4 separate regions of the Homo sapiens genome follow, and all the other regions are reported to be linked to region 2. Evidence: microRNA targets listed by miRTarBase, many of them from high-throughput screens and not tested one by one. Region 2 holds a microRNA gene; each other region holds the end of a gene's coding sequence.
The links. The annotated mature microRNA hsa-miR-204-3p reads GCUGGGAAGGCAAAGGGACGU and lies in region 2 at 4,787-4,807, opposite strand. An mRNA with a match to its seed (bases 2 to 7 or 8) in the 3' UTR can be bound and repressed. Matches are read on the target gene's strand: a 7mer-m8 pairs with bases 2 to 8, a 7mer-A1 pairs with bases 2 to 7 and ends in A, and an 8mer does both.

Region 1: miRTarBase lists FGD4 as a target of hsa-miR-204-3p. Seed matches in the 3' UTR shown: 7mer-m8 at 4,414-4,420.
Region 3: the mRNA of CNGA2 is a reported target of hsa-miR-204-3p. Seed matches in the 3' UTR shown: 7mer-A1 at 1,035-1,041.
Region 4: miRTarBase lists DERL2 as a target of hsa-miR-204-3p. Seed matches in the 3' UTR shown: 7mer-m8 at 4,937-4,943.

Annotation. Positions count from the first base shown.
Region 1 is chr12:32,640,008-32,645,007 of GRCh38, reverse strand. It overlaps FGD4 (FYVE, RhoGEF and PH domain containing 4), which reads right to left. Exons shown (of 17, transcript NM_001370298.3): 17 at 1-4,732. The coding sequence ends at 4,475. Among named protein-coding and RNA genes, the nearest start is that of DNM1L, 37 kb to the left of the region's middle.
Region 2 is chr9:70,805,207-70,813,435 of GRCh38, forward strand. MIR204 (microRNA 204) reads right to left here and starts at 4,878; the gene lies at 4,769-4,878. The region is part of intron 6 of TRPM3 (transient receptor potential cation channel subfamily M member 3); the gene reads right to left.
Region 3 is chrX:151,743,509-151,751,259 of GRCh38, forward strand. CNGA2 (cyclic nucleotide gated channel subunit alpha 2) reads left to right here. Exons shown (of 7, transcript NM_005140.3): 7 at 1-2,056. The coding sequence ends at 990. Among named protein-coding and RNA genes, the nearest start is that of CNGA2, 13 kb to the left of the region's middle.
Region 4 is chr17:5,469,237-5,477,465 of GRCh38, reverse strand. It overlaps DERL2 (derlin 2), which reads left to right. Exons shown (of 7, transcript NM_016041.5): 7 at 2,677-6,212. The coding sequence ends at 2,782. It overlaps DHX33-DT (DHX33 divergent transcript), which reads right to left. Exons shown (of 3, transcript NR_135644.1): 2 at 7,472-7,552; 3 at 7,106-7,374. Among named protein-coding and RNA genes, the nearest start is that of DHX33-DT, 4.3 kb to the right of the region's middle.

The DNA.
Region 1 (5,000 bases), not on the chromosome of region 2:
TATCTTGTAGAAGCCATGTGCTATTTCATGTCAAAATACAGGAAAAGATACTGCATTCTGCCAAATGCTCAGTCCAGAAAGTAGAAGACCATGATTGACTTCAGATTTTTTTTTTTTTTGCCTCAGTAAACAGTACAGAAAATGATCTGAGAATGAAATTATTTTTTAAAAGCCCAAAGGAGAAAAAGAATAACAAGATATCATAGTCTAGCATTTACAGGCCAAGGTCAAAAACCTGGGTGCAATGGATCCCATCAGCATGTAATTACATAGATTTTATATCCCTTCTGCAGTTAAAATATTTCATCTTATCTTAAAACACATTGCTGTGGTCTGGAGACCAGCAGTCTCTCCCCCACATCTCTCTTCATTCTTGCTTGTTTCAGTTTCTTATCTTATTCCTCTCTGCCCTTTCTGTAAAGAAAGCAAAGTTATCTTCTCATGACTACGTGATTAAGGGGTATATATAAGGATGAATTATACATAAAGATCCATGTAAATAATTTATGTTAAAATATTTAAGTTAAACAATTTCGATAGAAAAAGTTCATTTCTATGGAAAGACAGAATTGCAAATCAACAGTGTTTTTACATATATACATACATGTATAAATTCACAGAAAGGGTTTTTTAAGTTGACCTAGTGGTCTTTATGTATCATAGTCATTTTCTAAAGCTGAGAATCTATAGTAGATAATAGTATGCAAATAACAAGAAGTTTGATTCTAATAAAATTGGTAAGAATGAAGAAGCAACATGATCCACTACAGATGTCAATACAGTCTGAAGAATAGGAACTGGTTGGCCACAGTTCATATACTAATACATTCTTGGAGAATACAAAATTTAAGAATGAAAACATTAAGACATTCTTGACTTTTGAGTTAATTTTAGCTTATAAATATCATGTGCTTAATCTTAGACCCACTAACACAAATATCATATGATATAGGAAATCTTCATTAATCTATTCTGCATTATAGCAAAGATACCTATAAAACCCAAGACGCTTGTTCCCTAGAAGTTTACTTGCTCCGGTTGGTGCTTGCTACTCAGGTTGTATCTAGTCCAGAAAGATCATCAGAAATTTATCACAGACAATATGCTCAGATTAAGAACTTAAGGCTTTGAATATAACCAGAAAACAAATAAAAGCAACCACCCTGTTTCCAAAAAGTAAGGACAAGGAAAAGTAAAACAGAATTGTGAACTCAAAAGTATTTTTGACAAAAGTTTTTAGAAGGCATCAAAGAATCTTTAACAACCCTGCAGTACCACAAACTTTATCGTTTTCTTTATATATTTATAACTAGAACAAGTGTTCTTAAAAAAAAAAAATCCAAACGTGTGCGTATATATATATGGGGAAAGGGTACATTTAAAAGGTTAGTTTCTGTAAAAAGTTTAATAATTTTTAAAAAAATTGGGGTAAGTTAAGTCACCTAGTGAAGATAAGTACACAAACCTGATGTCAAATTAAACTTCAGGGAAAACAAAATGTGCTTTTTCTATCCATTTTCTTTGTTAAAGTAAAAATGTTCTTGATAGTTATTTAAAATCCAAGGAATGATGCCCCTTCCCATTTCCCTTCCTTATACTCTGCAATTCGAATTACCGTATCACATCTAGAAAGTTAATAATTATCTATATTCTTGTGGGAAGGGGCCTTCATATTAAATTTTCAGTATAAAACCATACCCTAAAGAGTTTTATTGCTTGCATACATGATGACACTGTGATGCCATTATTACAAAAGTGGCTGGTGTTTTTTATTGAGCCCCACTTAAAACCAAGATAAAAGTCTGCACTATATTTCATACTTAACACGCCAAATGGTAGGCTTTCAGCAAAAGCAAAATTTAAGCTTAAAATATTGAAATGTTTTATAATGAATAGAAATTTTGTCAAGGAAGTACTTTTTAAAGTTTGGAGGAAGGGCACTTTAAAGAAAAGATGACTTGGAAAGCACCAAATGAGTGAAAATAAAGAATTAAGACCCACAGGGAACGTTGGTTTTAATGGGAAAGCAACCAATGATATTTTTAGGTTGTCATGACTGCTCAAGTATGTTGGAAGGGAAAAGGCATTGATTATTCTTATCATCAATCACACTTTGAGGTCTCTTGGTTGAATTGTTTAATAAATGGCTAAGGGTATTACTTTACCTTTCATTGAGTAAAAACATCAGTGATTCTTTAATAAGAGAGAAGCGGGTAAGGCTGTTTCACTGCTTCTCTTTGCGTTTAGCTGAAGAATGTGGGGTGGAAAGTGAATATGGTGACCGGATAACCAGAAATTCTCTTCTAGTATTAATGCTTCTCATTTAAAAAATTAAAGATAATGACTGTTAAGAGCATGATAATAAACATTATCTTTACATGAGTATTCTTTCAATGATCTAAGTTAAATAACATTGATATTTATTGAGCCAAAACTTAAGTGTGTCCATGTTACTTCTGTTTTGGTAGGGAAAGTGTAGTCTTCTTGCTTTTAAAAATAGTTTTCAAAAATAATCTGACTTATAAATCTTCCCATTGGCCCATACATTACCATTGTTCTAGTCACACTTACAAAAGTCCTCTTCCCCAGTTAATCATTCTGTATTTCCATTGCTTCTCTTTTCTTGAGATTAAGAAAACCAAAGCATCATCTATAGCTACAGTTTAATTTTCCAAAAAACCACTCTGAGTATACATCACACACATACCCCGCTGGCCATTAAAAAAGAGAAGCAATGTAAATTTTCTTCTAGTCTTTCCCTGATTTAATAGGGCCTAAGAAGCTACTTTTATCTCTTTTTGGCTCCATCTATTTGGTTTAATGTTAATGATCATGGCTGATAATCCTTTTATGGAGGAAGGGAACCTATTATGTCAGCAATAATTGGTTCACTTGCTCCTTTGGGGTGGAAAAAATAAGATATTTCTTAAAGTAACAAGGCCTGAATAAATGTGTGGCAGTCTCAAATTCTATTCTATATCTAAGGTGTAATCCTTACATACTAAAGATAGTGGGATCATTCTTGTAGATTTCTAGCAGACTGGTACATTAAAAAGTGACAATGTTTGGGGTATGACAGTATAAAAAAAGGTTTAATTTGAGAAAAAGGATTAAGTTAAATAGTAAACTTAGTGTGAGATTTTAATCACAAGTACAAAAGAGTGAAGAGCAGCCTTCATGACAAGGAATCATGTGACCAGCCCCCACCCCAAACATAGGTTATCACATGTGGATTTTGTTTCATTCCGACAAAGGAAAAGGCCCATACAGTTATCTTAAGTGTTCATTATATAGAGACCTTATTTAACCATGCTCGATTATCTTACGGAAAAGAAAAACATTACGATAAATGTGGTTTCCACATATCCTAGTTCTGTAAAAGGTCAGGTGTCTCATAAAGTTTGGGTTTTGGTGAAAATGTTTGTACATGCTGATGTTAACTACTGCAATAATTATAGGATTGTAAACGGTAAAATAACCTGTATGACTTTGACTGTCCCAGTGACCAAAATGCACTTTAATCTTAGAATAATCAAGACTGAAGCATTAACTGAACCCTCATCTTATATTAATAGCACCTTCTAAGAGAGGCACTGTTTTAAATAGGCACAGAAACAAAAAATGGTACTTTAAAAGTACTGTTGGAATTCACAAATATATCCCATGCCACATAAATTACCGCTTATTATAAAAATATCAATACCCTCAAATGCCAATCAGCAAAACATAAATCACCAAAACATTTCTTCAGTTTAGAACATTGCTCAATTCCACGATAAACCATGCTTTATATTTAAAAAATAAATTAGAGATGAATGTGAACCTAAAAGCATGTATAATATATATATTTAATACTATATATACATAATTGCTATATACTTAAGACATTCTTAGGAGTATTTCTACAAAAACAAGTTATCTTTTCTTTATAAATCGGAAATCTGAACACCAACAATTTGTCCTTTTTCTTTTGTTTTAAAAGAACAGACATCATTTATGCAGCTAGAGATTTATAAACTAAATTAAATAAGTTAATACAATAGCCTCAACTGTCCCTGTATTTTTCACCATGGATCTATTTTGGCAACATGGAGGTATATCTTTCAAACTGTTCCAGGTCCTACATGTGAAAGAGAAGAAGACATGAAAGGATTTCTTAAATGGAAGTGCTCATTCTAACCTGACGGTGACAGAATCAATTGATACACCATTTCTTCAAGACAAAAAAGCACATATTCAAGGAATAGCTCAAAAAATGCTCCAGTTTTCACATTATTTCAAAACTTTATCGGTAGAATGACTCTGCACACTAATTTCACTAAGAGTACATAAACATAGGAAAATAGTCCTCAAAAGATGCATTTATGGGCCTATATTTTTCAACATAAAGTGCTAGCAGATGTGTAAGAAGAGCTGGGAATGTCTTGAGCTGTAAGTCCTGAGACCTCCACACCATGGCTGGTCCTGGAGGAGTTCAGCATTCTGATTTTTTCTTAGGTTCAGGATGATCATCCAAGGTGGCTGGATGCTCATTTGGACCACCTGGTGTCTCACCTGTGACAGCTAAAAGGATGACTTTCAGCCACTTCTGCTTCAGTTCCTCACTGTCTGCAGCAAAGCTGTGCACGGACTTAGACTGGGTCAGTTTGAAACTGTGTGGCAGGTCTGCGCTCCTTGGCATTTCATCCACCACATAGCCCAGAAGTGGAATGGTGGCCTGGGCTCTGACGTCCTAAAGAAAAGACATCAGACATTAAAAGCAGGTGATGTATTCGCTTGTTAAGTGTGTCCCTTGCTCCTACTAAACCTCTCTTCCTACCACTGTCCCAAACAGACTTAAACGGTGAGTTCTCCATGGGCACAGAGGGCAATCCCATTGCTTAGTACAGAGCCTGTACGTGAGGCCACTGATAATGTTAGCTGAATGAATGAGAGCTGACACCCAAATCAGCTAGGACTCAGAGACACTACACCCTCCTCTCTGTGAAAAGAGCCTTTCA
Region 2 (8,229 bases):
GTGAGAGAGAGACTGGGGTGGGGGAGGTGGTGGTGGGGGGAGACAGAGAGAGACAGAGAGACAGAGAGAGACAGAGAGACCTAATGAAGGTTAAGATTGACTTTACCTCACGAGGTCAGGAGATCGAGACCATCCTGGCTAACACGGTGAGACCCCATCTCTACTAAAAATACAAAAATTAGCCGGGCATAGTGGCGGGCGCCTGTAGTCCCAGCTACTCGGGAGGCTAAGGCAGGAGAATGGCGTGAACCCGGGAGGCGGAGCTTGCAGTGAGCCGAGATTGCGGCACTGCACTCCAACCTGGGCGACAGAGCCAGACTCCATCTCGAAAAAAAAAAAAAAAAAAAAAAAAAAAAGATTGACTTTACCACAAACCAGGTGGAAAGGGTCTTGGAATTGGGTTTATTTGAATAAAAGAAAATGTTTACCAAGTGACATTTCCTACATACCTAAGTTTATGAACAATAATTCATACACCCTATAAGAGTTCTTATTACTTGAATAATGAAAAAAATAAACAAAAGAAAACAAATCCTGCTTTACATGTGCAAAAATAGAATCTAAGAATGGAAATAGAAAGATGAAGTGAACTTTCTACTTCTCCCCAAACTCTTCATGCAGGCACACCATGTTTAATTGCTGCTTATTTCTCAGCCTCCCCCAGGATTTTATAATAAATTCTAACATGCACCAGAGTCAGTGTGCACTTCCTCTGTTCTCCCTTTGGGTGGAAGAAATGCTGCTAATGAGGAAGGGCTCAGCTCAGATTTGTTTGATGACCAGAAAAGCTGACTCTTCAATCTTCCTCCCTGTTTTAGCACAGGCACACCTGTTTTTTCACCCTGCCTCGTTCCAGCAGGAATTGCCCAGTACCCCATGTGAACCCAGCGACGCCAAGGCTCCTTAGCCAATGAGAGTTCTTCATTCTTCTGCCTGCGATTTAGGACTTGAATGTTTGCCTGCTGGGCTGCAGCACGTGAAACTCATTACGCAGCTTTGAAACCTGGCCTCCAACACAGAAGGAGAACAGCCTGTTCATGAGGAGAAGTGCTGTTTGTTTCAGCTATGGGTGCCAAAAAAGAAAAAAAAATCAACTGTTCCTTATTTGGCCATTTTAGGGCATAAAATCTCTGTTTTCCTCATTTGCCTCAGGGGCTCATGATCCTGAGCTGGGATCTTAAGGGGTTCAAGGTTAACAAGTTTTTGGCCGGGACGGTGGCTCACGCCTGTAATCCCAGCACTTTCGGAGGATGAGGCAGGTGGATCACAAGGTAAGGAGTTTGAGACCAGCCTGGCCAATATGGTGAAACCCAGTCTCTACTACAAATACAAGAATTAGCTGGGCTTGGTGGTGCACGCCTATAGCCCAGCTACTCGGGAGGCTGAGGCAGAAGAATCGCTGGAACACGGGAGGCGGGGGTTGCAGTGAGCTGAGATCATGCCACTGCACTCCAGCCTGGGTGACAGAGCTAGACTCCGTCTCAAAAATAAAATAAAATAAAATAAAATAAAATAAAAAGAAAAAAGTTTTTATTCTGTTAACAGCTATGACAACTTTATTAGTGACATCTGGGAGCACTATTTATAGTCATTTCCCAAGACTATATGAATGATTCTTCAGTTTTACATCCATTAGTTTCAATGACTTGACATGATCTAAATAATAATTTGAAGAGACAAATAATTATAAATCCTAAGAAGGGACTTTGAAGGGTCCTATGATAAAGTCCCTGGTTTTAAGATGATTATCTCAAGCAAATTAAAATCTCAGCTCACTTTTCTTTAAGATCCCCAGGGAATGAGACACCTTATCTTCCCTAAATATATCTCACTATAAAACTGTTGATCATGGCAGAAAACTGCTCGGTCAGCATAAGTTTTCCCATTAATTTTATGTGTGTCTAACTTTCTAAAGTTAGCCATGCACTTCTACTAAATGGAATGATCCTGATCTGGACTGAAAAGCAACCATGGGCAATTATCATTTTGAATAAATGGAGGAAAATCAATAGTTATTTCTTTTTCCATGGAAATGGAAATACTGAGGCCACGGTGCACTGGCTGCTGTAAAATATGTATCATTAGACTCTCTAAATTCATAAGATATAAATGATTTACAACAATCATAATTCAACAGGAACACAGTCAACTTTCTCAGACTAAATGCTTTTATGCCCATGAATTGGAAGTATGCATGATGGTCTTTGCTTGTACATGTTGCTATTTATTTATCCTGAGTCTTTCTATGTCATTATTGCTTTATGATTTGTCCTTTTTTATAGCTTTTTAGTATCTAGTCGCTTCTATTACATCTTTGTGTCAGGTTGAAAATCAGAGCTAAAAATAAAGCCAGGGAAATCAAACAGTGATGCTTATAATAACAAGTTATTGAGCACCTACTTGCATAGGCTAGGCACTATGCAAGGTTTTCAGAATGACCACAATGAATAAGACACAGGCTGTGCTCTATAGGATCTCACAATCTACAGAAGATGAGAGACTGTGAAGGCAGATGGGAGACTATGAAGGCTCCATTCTACCAAAAGGAGCTGTATGTGGGAGAGGCTGATATAGAGCACAGCAAGAGCATGGAGGATGAGGTGAATGTGGGCCCAGGAGGATACCAGGGTATGAGCTGGAGGGAATACTAGGGATGGGAGTTGTGGTAAGATTACAGAGAGGAGAAGATTTTTAATCTGAGACTTGAAGGAATTTAGGTTTTGGCCAGGTAGTTAGAGTGAGAAGAGAATGAAATTTTAGTAAATGTCAGAAAGAGACAAAACCACATCCAGTAGGGTATATCATTTAAGGGAAACTGTAAGTATCTTGAAATGGATGGGACATACGATCTACATGGTGTTATGTTAGGAGAAGCTATAAAAACAGATGAAAAATATGAAAGGTAGTTAGCAATGAAATAAGGAAGATATTGGGTTCCATCAAGATAACAGGTTCCTATGTTATGCTAGGAACCTATTGTATCTGACCAACAACAGTAAACATTGCTGACTTTGAGACCAAAATGCCAGTCAAACATTGGCAACCCAAATCTTTCTAATCTGAAAAGGGAGCTCAAAATTCTTCCCTGAATGTAAAAGTGTCTAAGAAGTCTTAGAATGGTGGACAGCTCTCCTGTTGGGACCTACTTGTTTACAAGAACTATCCCAGTCCCTGAACAACTAATTCCAATGTAGAAAAGTCTCTTTGCTGAAAAAAGGGAGGTCTTTAGCTTGAATAGGAAAATGGGTGAGATAAACATGACAAGTCAATACCAAGAAACCAGTTTCGCTAAAATTTGCTCTGTTCCCTCAAAGTTATTTTTTTGGCTTCATTATTACCTTTATTGACAAAGTAACTTTTCATTAACAAGCATGACAAATATTTCAGTTACACAGCCAACTGTGTCAAGTCGTTTCATATAATGAAAAAGCAGGGATATAGATTGTGTTGTTTATTCCTCACAAATTATTCTTTAGAGGGAAGACCCTCTAAAAGGCGGAGAAAGCTTTAAACATGTTTACTTGACAGCACCTGAAAAATGATGTCATTACAGTCTAAAGTGAACTGATCATCAATTTGGTATTTGTGTTTTGGAAGGCCTTTCCCTTGACTGTTTGAGGCAGTAGAAAGTTTGCATGATTGGGCTGAACAGATTGTAGCACCCACAGAAGGAAATAAGATGTTCTTGATATACAGTCATGTGTTGCATAATGACACTTTGGTCAATGACAGACCACAAATACAATGGTGGTCCCATAAGGTAGTAATAGAGCTGAAAAAGTCCTATCACCTAGTGACATCTTGATGATTCTGACCCTGTGCAGGCCTAGTTTAATGAGTGTGTTTGTGTCTTCATTTTTAAGAAAAAAGTTTAAAAAATACAAAGATAAAAAATTTTAAAGACAGAAAAAAGCTCATAGAATAAGCAAATGAAGAAAATATTTTTGTATAGCTGCATAATGTGCTTATGTTTTAAGCTAAGTATTATTGCAAAATAGTCTAAAAGTTTTAAAACGTTAAAAAGTTTACAAAGTAAAAAAGTTACAGTCAGCTAAGGTTAATTTAGTTTTGAAGAAATAAAATTTAAAAAATAAATTTAGTATAGCCTAATTATACAGTGTTTATAAAGTTTACAGTAGTATACAAAAATATTCTAGCACTCACTCAGTGACTCACCCAGAGCAACTTCCAGTCCTGCAAGCACCATTCATGGTAAGTGCCCTATTAAGGTGTACTATTTGTATCTTTTATACTATGTTTTTATTGTGTCTTTTCTATGTTTAGATACACAAATACTTACCATCGTGTTACAGTTGCCTACAGTATTCACTACCACATAGTAACATGCTATACAGGTTTGTAGCCTACAAGCAATAGGCTATACTATATAGCCTAGGTGTGTAGTAGGTTATACCTTCTAGGTTTGTATAAGTACACTCTATGATGTTCATGACAAAATCACCTAATGATTCATTTCTGAGGATATAGTAACCCCATCGTTAAGCAATGCATGACAGTATATGTAACCTGTCCAGGGGAATCTTTGCTTCCTTTTCAAGTCACATGGTTTGGACCCAGAACTATTAGTCTTTGAGAGTATATTTCACTCCTTCCTAATTCCAGAGCTGCTTGGATGAAGTTCTACTATGACCTTTAACATACAGTGTTTTTCATCTCTCTTATGGGACAGTTATGGGCCCAATGATGGAAAATTTCATGTCATGGTTATCCCAATGCATTTGATGATGGTGCAATGATCAAAAAAGATGCCAGTGATGACAATTGAACGTCCCTTTGCCTTCCCAGCCTCCTTCATATATTCTCAGGCATAGGATGACAAAGGGAAGTCCACGAGTCACATGAAGAAAGACTGTAGCCATGGGTACGCGATCAGGAAGTCCTCTGCTTGCCTCCACCCCCACCCTCCTTTCCATCACCCTGTCCTATGGGTACATGATCAGGAGGTCCTCTGCTTGCCTCCACCCCCACCCTCCTCTCCATCACCCTGTCCTATGGGTACATGATCAGGAGGTCCTCTGCTTGCCTCCACCCTCACCCTCCTCTCCATCACCCTGTCCTGTGGGTAAATGATCAGGAGGCCCTCTGCTTGCCTCCAACCCCACCCTCCTCTCCATCACCCTGTCCTATGGATACACGATCAGGAGGTCCTCTTCTTGCCTCCAACCCCACCCTCCTCTCCATCGCCCTGTTCTATGGGTACATGATCAGGAGGTCCTCTGCTTGCCTCCATCCCCACGCTCCTCTCCAGCACCCTGTTGTATTTCTTCCTAATATTGTTTCTCCACCATCTTGCAACTAACCACCATCTTCTTCCCAAAGTTTTGCTTGATGACTCATTCCAACTGAATCAATGCTCAACCTATATTTGGCACAGAGTTGGTGCTCAAATAGTTGCTGAATGGAATAATGACCCTCAAACTCTCCAAGGTAACCAAACTTTAGGGGAGCCTTTTTAAAAAAATGAGATAATGCTTCCATGTGTAGGATGAAAGGAGAAAGTATTTTGGAATTATGTCAGCCTAGGTTTGCACCCAGCTGTGCCACTAATTGGATTTAAGGCAAAGGCTTAACCTCTTGGAGGTGCCATTTCATCAACTGTATAAAAGGAAGAAAATAATCCCTATCTTGAAGGGTTTTTGTGAGTATTAAAAGAGATAGTATATATGAAAATGCCTAGCATGGTGCTTGGAACCTAAATAAATGCTCATTCCCTCCTAGTAGTATCCCAATAGTGCCGTCAAGCTGTCCTATATGGTATCTTTAGGATGATAAATAATAGGGAGTAACTAATTTCTGATGTGGTTGAATGTCAGAAGAGATAGAGATAAAACAACAGTCATAGGGAGTGATACTGTTAGGAAATTATAAAGGAAATGAAGACTTCTGTGGTTAATTTCTTGGAGTTTAAGAAGAAATTCACATTTTCCATTAATTATACTTACCAACTGAGTCTAACTGGCAACTACCCCAAAATGAATAAAACAAGCGGGAGTCAAGAGAGAAAAACGGCAGGCATCCTGTCAAAAAATAAAATCTTTGAAATTTCTACACCCTGTGGTTGCATACACATTTTATTAAAGCAGATGGATTACCCAATTTACATAAATTTATATACGTGATGGCAACTCAAGTTGCACAGTGAAACCTATGTAGAGCATCATCCAGCCCTTCTGCACCAGCTATATCTTGTCTTATCACTCCTTCAACTGGACAGGTCCTTAAAAATCATAGCTCTTTGCTGGAGGAAGTATCATTCTTTATTCTCTTCCAGCCTAGATAGCTTCTGTGGTGTGGAAAGGGTCAAATGAGTTAATATCTGTTAAGTGCTTGTACTGATGCTTAGAACTTAGTAAAACCTCAAGAAATCTTAGTTGTTGTTATATTAATTATAATGATAATTATGAATCTTCCAATTCTGTGTTTTCCAGGAGACGATAGGAATTGAATTCTTTCCTTCCCTCCTTTTAATAACATTTTCCTGATTTCTAGAGAAATAAGTGTTCTAGTTTCAAGTGTTTAGCTACTTTTGACTTAAAAGAACTATCCATTTAGAGGCTAATCTACCCAGTTTCTTTTCTTTTCTTTTTAAAAGAGGAATTGAAACAAAGCTAACATGTTACTCAACATGCATAATATTATTAATTGGACTGATTCCTCTTTCTCTCTCTGGCCAAGGTATAGATATAAATATATCTACATCTATGACTATGTCTACATATCTTCCAAAAAAGTCATCAAAACCATTTCAGTATAATTGGCAGGTTTCCTACCAATTTGGTTATTGTTTCCCAAACTAGGAGATAAACTTAATGGTAATATCATATTTCTGGAGTTGCTAAGCAAGCTAGCCTTTGGTCAGATGGTCTCAGAGGAGGACCCCATGAGTATGAACAGCTCTGCTCTGCCTTCATTTTGTTCCTTCCTTAGAGACAGCATTAAGGGAAGATCCCAAATCCTCAAGTTAGATCTCTAGACCCTAGCTTCCTAGGATCAAGCTAGACTTTGAGAGCAGCCTCACTTGTGGCAAATATTGGGAAGTAGGAGTTTGGCAGCTGGTAGCTGGCTGGTGAGAGGCATGTAGGAACTCACCCACTTTTCATGAAACATCAACATCACTTGGTTATATGTCAGCACCCATACCCTGGCAAAGCTGCCTTCTCATAAGAATGTACTCACTGGGGAAAATGCAAAGCAATATCACTTGAAGCACAGCCTCTAAGGGTTGGTTCCTCTGGATTCTCAATAGTTTGTAAAATGGCCAACCAAGAGCAACTACTGTACATTTTCCAGAGAGTTCCTAATTAATGTGTTTCTGAGGACATAAATTCGGCTTTTAAGCACATACTCCCCAGGCCATTCTAGCACTGTGTATGGCAATTAGACTGCTGGCTTAATACTATCAGCAAAGTTTCAAATAGACAACACCACAAACCCTCCTGGAAATTTAGCACAAGCACTTGTTAATGGAACCAAGCACAACATTGGCTTAGCTATGTCTTTCCTGCAGAGTGAATGGCATGCTGGTATTTTCAGCTTCTTTTTCCCCCATTTATCAAACTCTAATGAAAAAAAATTAAGTAATACTTTAGTGAAGGTCAAGTGGGGTGAGATTAGTGGTACTATGGTTAAAAATGGAAATCTCTGGATAGCAGGTATGTGTTATGTCCGCAAATTGTCTCAATATTTTCTTAATTACCTTTCAGGACACAATAGAAAAAAATGGTCTTAAGGGGGAAAATTAGGAATAAAAAGTGAAACTAAGGTAGTGACACAAGGCTGGGCAAAGAAGAGCAGACAAGGAGTTTAGAGTTCAGGTTCAGATAAAAGCTCTACCAAGGTAATTCACGTAATGAATTTAGTCAGAACACGTGACTGTGATTTTTTTTACAAGTGGCTTTCCTATCTGCAAGATGAAAGCAATGCGCTAAGTGATGCTCATTGTCTGAATTCCTGTAGCACTTTATATTACTAAAGGGCACTTAACATCTACTGCTTTGTACTATTCACAATAGCAAAGACATGGAATCAACCCGGGTGCTCATCAGTGGTGGATTGGATAAAGAAAATGTGATACATATACACCAGGGAATACTATGCAGCCATAAAAAAGAATAAAATCATTATGTCCTCTGTAGCAACATGGATATAGTTGAAGTTGGAGTCATTATCCTAGGCAAATTAACATAAAAACAGAAAACCAAATATCAC
Region 3 (7,751 bases), not on the chromosome of region 2:
ACTACCATTGGGGAGACACCACCCCCTGTAAAGGATGAGGAGTACCTATTTGTCATCTTTGACTTCCTGATTGGCGTCCTCATCTTTGCCACCATCGTGGGAAATGTGGGCTCCATGATCTCCAACATGAATGCCACCCGGGCAGAGTTCCAGGCTAAGATCGATGCCGTGAAACACTACATGCAGTTCCGAAAGGTCAGCAAGGGGATGGAAGCCAAGGTCATTAGGTGGTTTGACTACTTGTGGACCAATAAGAAGACAGTGGATGAGCGAGAAATTCTCAAGAATCTGCCAGCCAAGCTCAGGGCTGAGATAGCCATCAATGTCCACTTGTCCACACTCAAGAAAGTGCGCATCTTCCATGATTGTGAGGCTGGCCTGCTGGTAGAGCTGGTACTGAAACTCCGTCCTCAGGTCTTCAGTCCTGGGGATTACATTTGCCGCAAAGGGGACATCGGCAAGGAGATGTACATCATTAAGGAGGGCAAACTGGCAGTGGTGGCTGATGATGGTGTGACTCAGTATGCTCTGCTGTCGGCTGGAAGCTGCTTTGGCGAGATCAGTATCCTTAACATTAAGGGCAGTAAAATGGGCAATCGACGCACAGCTAATATCCGCAGCCTGGGCTACTCAGATCTCTTCTGCTTGTCCAAGGATGATCTTATGGAAGCTGTGACTGAGTACCCTGATGCCAAGAAAGTCCTAGAAGAGAGGGGTCGGGAGATCCTCATGAAGGAGGGACTGCTGGATGAGAACGAAGTGGCAACCAGCATGGAGGTCGACGTGCAGGAGAAGCTAGGGCAGCTGGAGACCAACATGGAAACCTTGTACACTCGCTTTGGCCGCCTGCTGGCTGAGTACACGGGGGCCCAGCAGAAGCTCAAGCAGCGCATCACAGTTCTGGAAACCAAGATGAAACAGAACAATGAAGATGACTACCTGTCTGATGGGATGAACAGCCCTGAGCTGGCTGCTGCTGACGAGCCATAAGACCTGGGGCCCAACTGCCTCTCCAGCATTGGCCTTGGCCTTGATCCCAGAAGCTAGAGGAGCTATTTAGATCTCCGGATTTACATGCATTACCCTCATGTTCCCTGAATTCTCCCAAAAGCCTCTCTGACCCTGGGTTTTTGGCCTAAACATCCAAGATTCCGCCTCCAAGTTTAGCCCAAGTTTGTGGAGAGTACAGACTGCGTTGGCTGGGCTTCCGAGAGCTTCGGCCTGCCTAAGTCTGAGGAAGGGAGAAGGGGGCAGCTGTCTGCCAGGAGTCTGGCTCTTTTGCTCATAGCGACCCCTCCCTTGGTTCTGGCCCCCGCTTTTTCTAACATGTCTTCTGAATGCTTCCTTTTTCCCTGCACACGCATGTACTTCGAGCACCGACTATAGACATTTAGATCAGGTACCCAGTGTCTGTCTCCCACGACAGGCCAAGGGATGTGATAGTGTTGTTGGGAGGGGGTAGAAGGGTGCCCACTCAGGGTTATTCCTCCCCCATCAGATGCTCCAGCTCCTGCTCTGTAGATTGATCTGTCTGTCTGCTAGCCAGGATGGGATCTCTGCAGTCTTCTGTGGACCAAGGAGATAGACCCGGCTTCTGGTCCATTCCAGGGCAGGGAGTGAGGAGCAAGGCAACTGGCATTTGTCCACCTGGAGACAGAGGTAGCTGGCAGCTCTGGCCATCCCTCCCCTATGAAGAGCATTCCTAAAGAGGCCCTGAAAACTGCTGGTGGTGGGGAGACTCTTCAAGTTAATATCTGCATTAGAGGCACCTATGAGTTAAAAAATTCCTTTGAACTATCTGTGGTTATTGCTCAACTCTGCTGTTCACATTCTCTCCCTCCCTTCATTAATCCCTCTCTTTTCACCATATGGTTGTCCCTCAGTATTCATCAGGGATTGCTTTCAGGAGTCCCCATGGATACCAAAATTTGTGGATGTTCAAGTCCCTGATACAAAATGACGTCGTATTTGAATATAACCTATGCACATCCTCCCATACTTTAAGTCATCTCTCGATTATTTGTAACACCTAATACAATGTCAGTGCTATGTAAATAGCTGTTATATTGTATCTTTTCTTTGTATTATTTTGATCTGTTATTTTTTTCCTGCATATTTTTAATCTGCCATTGGTTGAACCTGCAGATGTGAAACGCAAGGATATGAAGGAAAGACTACTTTTCTTTGCCCCTATCCAGAACTCTTTCGGTCTGAAATACACTCTCCCACCTCTCCCTGCCTGCCTAAGCCTTATGGGTCCTTCAGGGCTTACCTCAGGCACCACGTTCTCGCAGAAGGCCCACTTGACTGCAACCACTCCCACACTAGTCAATTATCTCCTCTGTAGGCTCCCACAGCGCAGAGCCTCTCTGTCCTGGTTTTGTAATGTGCGGTCAGTTTTAGTGGACTTGGTTTCCCCTCCTGACTGTGGACAAGGCCAAGACAGTCTACCTCATGTGTCTATTTGGAGCCTCAGTGACATAGCTGGCACTGAGGAGCATTCAGAGAACATTTATTCATTGGGGGAGTAAGTGAACACATGAATGAGTGAATGAATGGATGAATGAGCAAAGAAACACAGCGGACCAAAACTCTCATGCTTCTCCCTGACAGCAGTCATGCCTTGACAGAAGCATTGGCTCTGCTGGGGGAGTTGGGAAAGATCTCCTGGAGTATCAGGTCTTTCAGCTGGGCATTCTAACACGATCAGGAGCCTAAAGGAAAAGTACTAATTAGTGGGCAAGAAAATCCAGGTGCAGACTCAGAGGCCTTCCTGTTCACATGCACACCACTTATTTATTCATGTATTTCTTGTGGTGAAATACACACAAAATTTACCATCGTAATCACTTGTAAGTGTACAGTTCAGTAGTGTTAAGTATATTCACATTTTTGTGAAAACAATCTTGAGAATTTTTCACCTTGCAAAACTGAAACTTTGTCCCCAGTAAAAATTCCCCATTGCTCCTTCTACCCAGCCCCTGGAAGCAACCATTCTACTTTCTGTCTCTATAAATTTAACTTCTCTAGGGACCTCATATAAGTGCTATCATACAGTATTTGTCCTTTGTGTCTGGCTTATTTTACTCAGCATAACATCCTCAAGACTAATCCATGTTGTAGCATGTGTCAGAATTTCTTTCCTTTTTAAGGCCAGATAATATTTGATTGTATAGATCACCACATTTTGCTTAGTCATTCATTTCTTGATGAACACCTGGGTCGTTTCCACCATTTGACTATGGTGAATATTCCTGTATCCATGAGTATACAAATAGCTCTTTGAGACCCCGTTTTCAGTTTTTTGGGCATATACTCAGAAATGAAATTGCTGGATCACTTAGTAATTCTATTTTTAATTGTTTGAAGAACCATTTTCTTTTCTGTGTGTCACCAAAACAGTGACATCATTTTACATTCCTACCAGCAATGCACAAGGGTTCCAATTTCTCTACATTCTCCCCATCACTTAGTTTCTGTGTTTTTTGTAGCTATCCTAATGGGTGTCAGGTGAATCTTACTGTTGCTTTGATTTTCATTTCTCTAATGAGTGGTGATTTTGAGCATATTTTCACAAGCTTATTGGCCGTTTGTATATCTTTTTTGGAGAAATGTCTATTCAAGTTCTTTGGCTATTTTTTAATTGGAGTGTCAAGTTGTAGAAGTTCTTTATATATTCTGGATATTAAACCCTTATCAGCTATGATTTGTAACTATTTTCCTTACTGTCTACGTTGCTTTTCTACGGTGTGACCATGTGGATTGTGCCCCTTGGTATGCAGAAGTGTTTAATTTTGTTGTAATTCAATTCATCTGCTTTTGCTTCTGTTGCCTGTGCTTTTGGCATTACCATTCCTTTTTATGTGGATTCATCCTTCTGGCCAGGCTTCTTTTACATTTAGTGTAGTTTCTTGACCTCTTCCCTAGCTTAGAGGAAGAAACCTTAACCAGGGGAAGACTCACCTGGACGGATCTGTAACATGACACATGCCTAGGTCCTGGTCCCTGAAAGTTGCAGAAGGAGAGAGATGCATTCATGATGGAGCAGTGCTTTGTGTACACCCCCCTTTGGGTATTGGGCTTGGAGAAAAAGCTCTAAACCCCTTTGCCTCAAGAGAACCCCACGCAACAGGAGGAGTCTTCGGAGACCTAGCCAGCTCCTTGCCAATAACCTCATTGCTAAGGTTGCACTGAGTTCAGTTTTTACCGTGTCTTGGAACCAGGACAAAATGTAATTTTTGCAGGCGTAAGATGGTACTGGGGCCAGAAACAGGGGGATGACTGCATTGAAATTTTTTGCCTTGATTTCAGCAAGAAATCTTCAGTGTTCTCCCTGGAGCCTGGTTCACCATCAGCCCAGCCCCAACAGGTGCCTGATTTCCAGCCCACATCATGGGATGGACATTGTGTCTTGGATTTGGTTTTCCCCAGGGCAAGGCAGGCACCTTCTCTGGACCACATGGGGAGCTCATTGGTTCAAGACACAGACTCCAGGGCTCAGCTCCCACCCTCTTCCAGTTTTCTTTTCCCCAGATATCCTTGGGCCCACTCTCTCATAACTTTTTGCCATGTCTCGAATGTCTATGTTCTCTTCAGCTTTCAGGTATTTTCTTTTATTTTTTAAATAAAATTAAATCCAAATTTTATTAAGGATTTCAAGTTACATACTTCAAATTTCTACAATGGAATGGAATCATTTTGGAACTGGAAAAGTGGCATAAACACTGACATCCCTTGAAACTACAATTTTATAAAGAAAATTCTGCAAACCACATCCCCATTATGTAACAAGACTAGGCATTATCTACACCTTCACTTTGGCAATAGCTATTTCCCAAAATAATGAAAAAGGTGATTTTGCTACTTCAGTTCATTAAAAACGGGATTCTATCTTTAAGGTTCAGAAAAAGCTGCATTTAGATGAACTATGGTTACCCGCTCCCCCCACCCCCCAAAAAAAAGAGAGCACAGAGTGTCTAAGCAAAGCAAAGGAAGTCATTTTGAAAATAAAGAGAGAAAAGCTATTATAATTGGTTAAGGATTTCCAGTAGTAAGTGAAAATCTCAGGAGAGGAATGGATAGCACTACAAACAATGTGTTCACATTCCAAGTCCTTAACACTAACTTTCTCTGTTCTGGATCTGGGCAAGCAGCACTCTGTTAGATCTTTGCGTGGCTCCTAATTTTATAGAAGTGGATGGATGCACTATTTCACAAGGTCTAAGAGTTTTTTTCAGATATTTTTGATGACTGTACTGTAGTAAATACTATAGGGATAGCACTATAGTATTGTAGTCATGAGACTAAAGTGGAAAAAAGACTATTTTTGACAAAAGATGCCATTAAATTTCAGACTATAGAGCCACATTTACAATATCTCAGGCTAATTACTGTTAATTTTGGGGTTGAACTTTTTTTTTTTTTTGACAACAGCGAGGGTGGACTATTGGATTGTCATTAGAGGAAGGTCTAGATTTCCTGCTCTTAATAAAATTACATTGAATTCATTTTTAGAGGTGATGAAAACTTCCTTTTTGAGAAGTTAGTGTTCAGGTCTTGGAATGCTTTCAGGTATTTTCTCATGCTGTTCCCTCTGCCTGGATTACCCTTTTCTGCCACTTTTTCTTCTGAGATGAAATTCACAGGCCCCTTCTCCGAGTCCTGCCACAGCTTTCTATGTGAGACTCCCTTGCACACTGGTCTGCAAGTGTCTGTTTAGCAATAATATATTCTCATCTAAAGACAGTTTGTTCATTGAGAAAAGGATGAAGGAACAACAGAAGGAATATCTGTGCAGCTTGTCGTGTGTGTGTGTGTGTGTGTGTGTGTGTGTGTGTGTGTTTGTGCGCGTGTGCCTGTGTGAGGATCTGGATGTCAGCCTAGGCAGTGTCTGTCTCTGGCCAGCCCCTCACCCACCCTCTCTCCGGTTGTTTTCTCTGTAAGAGCGTGACTCTCCTGTCTGTTGCTGGCCGCCGCCCCCGCCTCTCTCCTATAACTGGCTGTAATATAGGAACTGAAGTACGTTTTCCATTATGTGTTGGATTTATTCAGCACAGCCTGATGTTTCCTGCTCTTGATTTTAAAATGTTTAAATTGGAATGTTTTTTATTTTCATTTGAAAATACCCATTGAAGGTAAATTGCTCTATTTGCATATGGCCATCAATTGCTTTTCTCTGCATTGGTGACCTTCTATACAAAACAAAAGTCCCCTCTCCTGCGCACCACACTCCTTCTTCTTTTGGTGTGACCTGTGGTGGTCCTTGCCTGGCCAGCCCAGCCTGAGTCCAAGCCTCAGAAGCATCTATTCCTTGGTCTGGAGCTTAAAGTTAGTCTGACCATTTATCCCCTCCCTTCGGTGAATCCGAGGCAGAGGGTCTCTGTCTTCTGTTTAGCCTGGAAACAAGGAAGCCCCCAGTGCACAGAGATGGGGAACCCTACCACCAGAGGGCGCATGAACCTCAGGAAAGGGTGGTGGGCTCCACTCTGCGAACCCTCCACCCAGCAGAGGACTGAGCAGGGCCGGTTGAGGCAGTTAGGTGGCTGCCCCCCGGGGCCTTGCAGAGCTATTGGACAAGGTCTCTTTCCCATTGTGCCCCACTGTGGTCCCTTTGAAGGCCCTCAGAGGTTCCTGGGTGTCAAGGCCAATGCCCAGTACAAGTTTCTTCATGCTAGGTACCCAGACTCTGCTGGAGACTGGGGAAGGAGAGAATGTCAGGGTGGAATTACAGGGAGACTTGAGCACTATGGTTGTCATTACTTATTGTATTCAGAAAAAAAAAAAAATACTAGAAGTCTAAAAAACCCTTGATGTTATGGATAAGATTGGTTAGCATGGAGCTAATGTCAGCCTACTTAAAATTGACATAAATAAAATTATTATATAAATAATTGTTCCAGTGTCACATGAAGGTAGTACACAGATGATTGTGTACATTTAGCCAAATACCTACTTGATGCCACCATGGTATTTGAAAAGTAACACCACCATAACTCACCCTTTGGTGTTTCCTAGAGAACCTGCTCATCTTCCCATGTTGGTCATGGCACGTCTGTCCTTCAGGTTGCTCAGGCCAAAGCTCCTGATGTAATCCTGGATCCTTCTCTTTTCTTCATCCACTGCATCCAATCAGCCAGAAAATACCCTGTCTGCATAACTTTTCAAAGTCCAGTTAGAATCCATGCACCTCTCCCACCTCCGCCACTCCCGCCCTCGTGCAGGGCTCTCTCCTGGATGACTGCAGTCGCCTCCAGACTGGTGTCCCTGTTTCCACCTTTGCTCCCTCCCCTCCAACCCACTCTCCATCTAGCCAGCAGAGTAGTCAAAAGCAATGAAAGTCATGTCTCATTCTGCTTACATTCTTTTGGGGTCTTCCATTACTCTTATAATAAAATTCAAACTCATGGCTTGGTCTCCAGGTCCTGTTGCACAGCGCCCGCCAGCATCCTTGGCCTCACCTGCTTTCTCTCCTGGCCTCTTCTGGAGTCAGGTCCTCCAGTCTCCTCTGAGTTCCTCAGACACACCCAGCTTCTCTGTCCCTTGGCAGCCTTGCGCTTGCTGTCTTTATGTGTTGCTCTCTTTTCCTCTGGAACTTCTGTGACTGGCTTCTTGTCCTCAGGACTCCACAATGAAAAGAGCCCCCAGCCTCCCAGTCATGCTGATCTCGGCACCCTGTGAGGTTTTCCTAACAGCACTTAGCACCCTCCACAATCTTCTTGTTCATTGGTTTCCTTGTTTATTGCTTGTTTCCC
Region 4 (8,229 bases), not on the chromosome of region 2:
GAGTGTGTCAACTGAGTTTTTATAAATGCACACATCTGTGTATCTATCAAGACAGAAAATTACCATCAACCAGAAAGTTCCCTGATGTCCTTCCCTGTCAATCATTGTACCTGTCCCCCAAGAAGCAATTGCTATTCTGGTTTTGTTCCTCTGTAGATTAGTTTTTCATGTTCTACAACTTCATGAGTAGAATTGTACAGTATGCATGTACTCTTTGGTATAAGGCTTCTTTCATTCAACATAATGTTTTTGAGACTCATCTGTGTTCTTGTATTTATTGGTAATTTGTTCCTTTTTATTGCTGAATATTATTTGGTTGTATGAATGTACCACTCCTTTCCATCTGCCCTTTCCATCTGTCCTAACCTGATTCTTATTATGATTAATGTTTTACCTACCTAATTACCCCTCATATGTAACCAGTCTTTCGGGATAGTCTCCACCTCTCCCATATGGATGCCTTGCTTATCTCACTCACCCTCAGATTCCCCAGACCAGGCTGCCCTCTTACAGGGATGCCTCCCCATCCTACTCGGGCTAACATCTCGTCAGGCCACCTCCATGTGTGCATGGTCTGATGGGGCTCTTGACTCCCTATACCAGGCTGTGCCCCCACCCCCATCCTGCTAATGTTTGGGCAGTAGAAGGGATCTCAGTTTTGTTTTTGTTGTCGTTGCTGTTTTTTGAAACGGATTCTTGCTCTGTCACCCAGGCTTGAGTGCAGTGGCTCAATCTCGGCTCACTGCAACCTCCGCCTCCTGGGTTCAAGCGATTCTCCTGCGTCAGCCTCCCTAGTAGCTGGGATCATAGGCATGCGCCACCACACCCGGCTAATTTTGTATTTTTAGTAGAGATAGGGTTTTGCCATGTTGGTCAGGCTGGTCTTGAACTCCTGACCTCAGGTGATCCACCCTCCTCGGCCTCCCAAAGTGCTGGGATTACAGGCATGAGCCACCACACCTGCCGGGATCTCAGTTTCTAATATACTTTCCTTTGATTATTGTGAGAGCAAACATTCTCACGTTTATTGACCACATGGATTTCCTTTTTGAATTGCATATTCAGCCCTTTGCCCATTTTTTCTGTTGGTATGTTTGTTTTTATTGTTAATTTGTAAGAATTTTAAAAACTCATTTTGAATTATACTATTTTCTGACTCCAGTATAAATCAGAAGTTTTCAGATACATTTCTAATTTTATCAACTGTGGAGGATTACAAGTAGAAATATAAGTGCAAATTGAGGATGCTGCTTTAATGGTTCCTTCTTTAGTGAGGTTTTGAATTACTACATCATAGTACTTAGGGAGTCTTTTGGACATTTACTATCCCCTCCTATGTTCTGCAGTAATTTTTCTTGGGATACCTTGTTAATTTTTTAAAAATTTTGTGGTAAAATAATACCTAACATAAAATTCACCATCTTAACTCATTTTAAATGTTCAGTGGCATTAAGTATATTCATACTGTTTTGCTGCCATCACCACCATCCATAGAACTCTCTTCATCCTACAGAACTACAACTCTGTACTCATTAAACAACTCCCCACCCCAGCCATCACCATTCTATTTTCTTTCTCTGAATTTGACTACTCTGTACCTAAGTGGAATCATACAATATTTGTCCTTTTTTGTCTGGCTTATTTCTTATTTCATTTAGCGTAAAGTCCTCAAGGTTCATCCATGTTGTACCATGTGCCTGAATTTCCTTCCTTTTTTTTGAGACAGTCTTGCTCTGTCGCCCAGGCTGGAGTGCAATGGAGCAGTCTCAGCTCACTGTAACCTGTGCCTCCCAGGTTCAAGTGATTCTTCTGCCTCAGCCGCCTGAGTAGTAGCTGGGATTACAGGCATGCGCCACCACGCCAGGCTAATTTTTGTATTTTTGGTGGAGACAGGGTTTCACCATGTTGACTAGGTGCAGTGGCTCATGCCTGTAATCCCAGCATTTTGGGAAGCCGAGGCAGGCAGATCACCTGAGTTCAGGAGTTCGAGACCAGTCTGGCCAACATGATGAAAACCTTCCCTCCTAAAAATACAAAAATCAGCCGGGCGTGGTGGCGGGCGCCTGTAATCCCAGCTACTCGGGAGGCTGAGGCAGGAGAATTGCTTGAATCCGGGAGGCGGAGGTTGCAGTGAGCCGAGATCGCACCATGGCACTCCAGCCTGGGCGACAGAGTGAGACTCCCGTCTCAAAAAAAAAAAAAAAAAATTCTATTATATGTGTGTACCGTATTTTGTTTATTCACCTGTTGATGCACACTTGGGTGATACCTTGGTTATGGGGAAACATTAATGATAAATATGTGAAAGTCAGGTTACAAAACATGTAGTGTGATCTAACTTTTGTAAAATGACATAATGTAAAAATTCCCAAAGAATAACTAAAACATTGACAATAGTTACCTCTGGAAATTGAGGATATTTTGCTCATCTCTATTTCCTCCTTCTCTGTAATTATTATGATTTGGATTGCTTTTGTAGTAAAAATCAGTAAAAGATAAAAGCTAATGTAAATGTTAATAATTATAGATGCTCTTACAATATGTTAACTGTTTAATTGGCAGGCAGGTGTAATGCTTACCTATTGGTGGAAACCCTATGGGGCCTGAACTGACCTTGTAGTACTTTGGACCTGAGATGACTCTGGGACCAAATTATATCTGTTGCTTGTCTTTTAGGAAAGCTATTTTTGATACACCAGATGAGGATCCAAATTACAATCCACTACCTGAGGAACGGCCAGGAGGCTTCGCCTGGGGTGAGGGCCAGCGGCTTGGAGGTTAAAGCAGCAGTGCCAATAATGAGACCCAGCTGGGAAGGACTCGGTGATACCCACTGGGATCTTTTATCCTTTGTTGCAAAAGTGTGGACACTTTTGACAGCTTGGCAGATTTTAACTCCAGAAGCACTTTATGAAATGGTACACTGACTAATCCAGAAGACATTTCCAACAGTTTGCCAGTGGTTCCTCACTACACTGGTACTGAAAGTGTAATTTCTTAGAGCCAAAAAACTGGAGAAACAAATATCCTGCCACCTCTAACAAGTACATGAGTACTTGATTTTTATGGTATAAGGCAGAGCCTTTTCTTCCTCTTCTTGATAGATGAGGCCATGGTGTAAATGGAAGTTTCAGAGAGGACAAAATAAAACGGAATTCCATTTTTCTCTCACTGTATTAAAGCTTTTGTGTGTGATCTTTTAAATTCTGATAATGTATTGTAGCCCTCCTGCGTAGATCTGAGCTCAGAACAGTTTACACAGCTGTTCTTCCTGTGTCTTCACAACTTTTAACTGGATTTCATTTCAGGATTGGAAATACGTGGCTGTCATGCTGTGGTTGTGTACATCTTACTAACTCAGAATGCAAGATTCAGCAGGAAGATGATTTATTTCTGTCATCTGGATAGGTTGTTTTGCATCTGGGTTTTGCCAAACTTTGTCAGACAACATGAAAAAAAAGGAGGGAGGATGGTTCTTGTAGCAGTAGGAATTCAGCTATAGGAAAGTCAGCTGTAAGCTAATGTGGCATCTTATTTGCTTTACTTACATTTCTCCATTAAGAAGTATCCAGGGAAAGATTGGTAAGGGCCACATTTTTGTAAAACTAGGAAGATTTTCATTAGACTTTTTTTTTCTTTTATTTTTAAAAAAGTTTTAATTAAAAATTTTTTTTTAAATACAGATGGGGTCTCACTGTGTTGCCCAGGCTGGTCTTGAACTCCTGGACTCAAGCAATCCTCCCACCTCAGCCTCCCAAAGTGCTAGGATGACAGGCATGAGCCACCATGCCCAGCCATTTTTTTTTTTTTTGCCTTTTTTGTTTTGTTTTGTTTTTTGTTTTTTTAATTAAAAAAAAAAAATAGAGACAGGGTCTCAGATTTTCATTAGATTTGGAAACCAAGTTAGAATGTTGACTTTGGAGCCAGACGAACAGATACCAGTTAGCTAGGCATATGTTCTTCCAGGGTCTTTGGCTAGTTAACATTAGTCATTTGCTTCGTGAAAATTCAAGAACCTTTTCAGAGCCAAGTACCTGGATTACCTTCCCAATCAGGTAGAAATTAGACAGGGTCCACAGAAGTAGACACTTAATGCTGTGGTTCAATAAATACTTCCCCTAAATATTAAGTCTTCCCTGAGTCTCAGCAGGTTTGCATTCACACTGCTTAAGTAACTTCCAGAACCTGGAAGAGTCGAAAGAGCACCCCTAGGAAAGAGATGATTCCAAACAGCTTTCATTAACGGCATGTAGGCACAGGTCCCTTTCCCAAAAGTGGATTGTTAGTAGTAGTTCATTCAACCTTTGTTAAGGGGTAGCTTTCCAGAATGTGACATTGTCCTCAGAAAGATAGACATAGGCTTAAACATAATGGACATCCTAAATAGGAATTTTCAGATTGTTTTTGAAGTGAAAAGTGTTTTAATGTCTTTAAATGGAATTGCATAACTAATGGTATTTAAGTATTTTACATGTTGCTAATAACTTTGAATATGATTGTTGCAATTTTATGGAACCTGGGTCTATGGGACTGCTTTTTAAGCAGTTTAAAAAAGGTTTTCAAAGTTTAAAAGCCAATCTTAGCATGTATAATCCTTATGGGATTCTTAAGTTTTATCCTATCTTGTTTTTGCTCAAGAACGCTTTATCAGTGACGTTTGTTAGAATTTTGTTTTTTGTTTTTTTTTTTTAAATTGTTTTTGGGCTAGAAATGAGTTTCTCTAGTTTTATTTGTTCTCCCTGAGTTGGAGTTATGCAATGAATGGCATTTTTGTGGTAAAATACTAATCCTAAAATCTGTTAACTCACTGTTCATTTAAGTAGGGAATATCTGTATACATTAATGACTAGGTAAAACAGGAAATACATTTTGAATATACAGCCTAAAGGCAGGCAGTTACAGGGTTTTTGATTTCTCCGATTTTATAGGGTGCAAGTTCCCAGTGGCAGGATGCCCTGCTGTGTGACTGACTACACTGTGTCCTGAGCAGTGGTAATTTCAATCACCTCTCATCAGTTTGGCCAGCCCTACAACCACCATTCCTAGCCCTGTGTTGCTTGACAGGATACCTGTGCTTGAATGGACATAAGGAAAAGTCCTTACTTTCTCCCCAATTTACCTCTCAATCTTAGTTCTTCCAGAACACACTTCCCTTTCACAATGCAAATAAACTGAAAGTGAGATTTGATACATGGAATTTTGAGACCAACCAACTAACCTTACACATAATTTGAGGGATTCCTGGATTCTTCTAGTGATACTGAAAAGCACACTTGACTAAAGCATAGTGTTTTTTGTTTGTTATGGAAATACGGTATACGTTCATTTAAAAATAAATGGACATACAAATTGCATCTCCTTAGGAGATACATTTTATATACATTTCGGTGCGTTTTTTTCCAGTATGGATTTCTATTTGTTTCTCTCTTCCTCTTGTTTTTTCTGTGTCACTCTTGTATGTCCTCATATCTTTCATACCTCTTGTGTAGTCTCTAGAAGCAGAACACCTAAGTCCTGGGTCTGGATAATGAAACCCTCAGTCTCTGGGGCCTCTGAAAATAAGGAAGCATTGGAGCTATTGCCATGTTGAGTAATGGGCTTCCTAGAACTATTGTCATCTATCCTGCCAGTGTTTTATGTTGTAGCTGTTTTTCTTTGACAGGTGAGTTCCAGCTATGTTGTTAGTCATGATCCTGCCATTATTTTCTGTGTTCTGTAGGATGTCTCCAGGCTACTTAAACATATTTTATGAGTTTGCAATAAAATTGTTGAATCTTGTATGATCAAGTCACTCCTCTGCTCAGAAATCCACAGTGACTTCTTAGTAAGCCCCTACATTATATGCATACTTGTTTTTTTCTTAACTTTACTCCCACTTCTACCTAACAGGGACCTCAACTTAAGTCTCTTCAGTTCTTCAAGGCCTGGCCTTGTTCCTGATTCCTCAAAAAATCTTGACTCTAAGGCCTATTTTATTGTCTGTCTCTGAATCCCTATAAAGCTTCAAGTCTGTATGACATTCTTAACGCCAAATTATATATTGTCTTGTACTGTTCCTAGCTGGTACATGTATATTAGTCTTGTCTCCCTCATGAGAATGTAAGCTCCTTAAGGGCAGGGACCATGTCTTAATTTTTGTATCCACCACAGTGCCTAGCACAGTGCTTGGCACATGGGTGCTGAATAAATACCTTTGTTTATTGATCAGCAAAGTATTATCTGGTATTTTTAATTATAGAGGGATTAAAGTGTATGCATGCAAGCTTGAGCCTAGTTGCTGAAGCTTGTGGTTGTCTCTGAAAGTGGGATAGAGGGAAACTGAACATGATCAAGGGCAGTAATTTGGTGGTCGGAAAAGCAAAGGTGACCACCAGCTGTTATGGTCGTGATCAGACCAGTTAAGTCCACAGACCATCCCAGACAAGTTAAAAATGAAATGTGTCTGACACTTCGTCGTTTGAAGGAAGAACCAGGATATTCTCTGAATAGTTATTAGCTTGTCAGTATCTACATATGAAAGCTGGTGAACCCCAAGAGACTTCTTCAGGAGAAACAGCAGATTTCAGTCTACCAATGGGAGAAATGTGAGCAGCATGGCTTGATGCATATATAGGACTTAATTTTTCCACTCTTTGGTCCTCTTAGCTTTGAGGCTATAGAATAGCTGGATCATTAGGCCAGAGATTATGGATGAGTTACCTACAGATTTGTTACCTACCTATGTGCTTTGTTTTGACAGTACTTTTTTTTTTTTTAAGTTTAAACCTGTATTTAACATTGACAGATAAAAATCTTCACTTTTGGCTTTTCTTGAGAAAATTGGAAGATCTGGCAATAATAGGTCTACATGACAGCCATTGCCTAGAAATGATTAGGGGCTGCATGTAGAGGTGGAATGTGCTCCATCAAGAAATAAGTCCACCCATTTACATTACCTAAATTATTGTAATCATTTGGAACATCGGACTCCTACCTTAAGTTACTCTGGAAAGCACACTGGGAAAAAGGACTGGGATGTCTTTACTCAAAGTCCATAATTTGAGAGTTAACATTTATTATCCCTTGTAGTTTTGGGTTGCCTTTCTAAATATTTCAGGGTAGGAAGTGAAAATTTGTCAGTTTATTCTTAAACACAAATCTGCTGCTGGTTCAACGTGCACATTTTCAGTAATGCCTGGTCACCAAACTGTCAGCAACTAGAGGAAAATTATCTCCGACCTGGAGCAAAGGGGAGGTTTTTTGTTTTTAGACTAGCTCTCTCACGAATCACGGGAAGGGAGATATTTAACAGGGCGAGTTTCATGGAAACGAGCTTCAGAAGATACCCTTCACATGAGCTGAAGCTTACGGTGTATTCTCTGGAAATCACATTTCCTGTAAGAGCAAACAGCTACTTGGCATTCTCCGTGGTAAATTAGCAAATCATCTAAGAACTTTTAGGAGGGTAAGGAAGAACTAGTTATAATCCTACTTTTTTCTGCTGCAGTTCTGAATCTTCACTGAAGTGTCTGTGATGGGGTTGCACAGCCATGTAGAGAACTTGAGAGTCTGGCTGGAATGGTTGGGGGAAAGGAAAGATAAAAGACAATTTTAATTTCATTGAACTCCCTCCTTTCTCTGCTTGTATTACTGGAGGCGACCACATCCGTTGGAGGAGTCATTTTCTGAGTTAAATTCATGTATATCAGAATTGGTTTTCCTTTCTGTAACACAAGATGATCACAAAATTATGATTTGGGGACATCTGAATGACTAAGATGACTCAATTTCTTAATCTGTAAATTAGAGATAATCTAATAACCAGTATATACCACATAACTTATAAGTTGTTTAGAGGATTAGACAATGCACGTTTGCGCTTCTCATTGATTTTACAGAATTAAGTACTTTCCTTGAAGAGTGACTGTTATTTGGACAGAGAAGGGGAAAACGCGGGTTTACTGAAAAGAAGTAATGCTACTAGAACAAAACAATGGGCGGGGCGCGGTGGCTCACGCCTATAATCCCAGCACTTTGGGAGGCCGAGGCAGGCGGATCACCTGAGGTCGGGAGTTCAAGACCAGCCTGACCAACATGGAGAAACCCTGTCTCTACTAAAAATACAAAATTAGACGGGCCCCGGTGGCGCACGCCTGTAACCCCAGCTACTTGGGAGGCTGAGGCAGGAGAATCGCTTGAACCCAGGAGGCGGAGGTTGCAGTGTGAGCCGAGATCGCGCCATTGCACTCC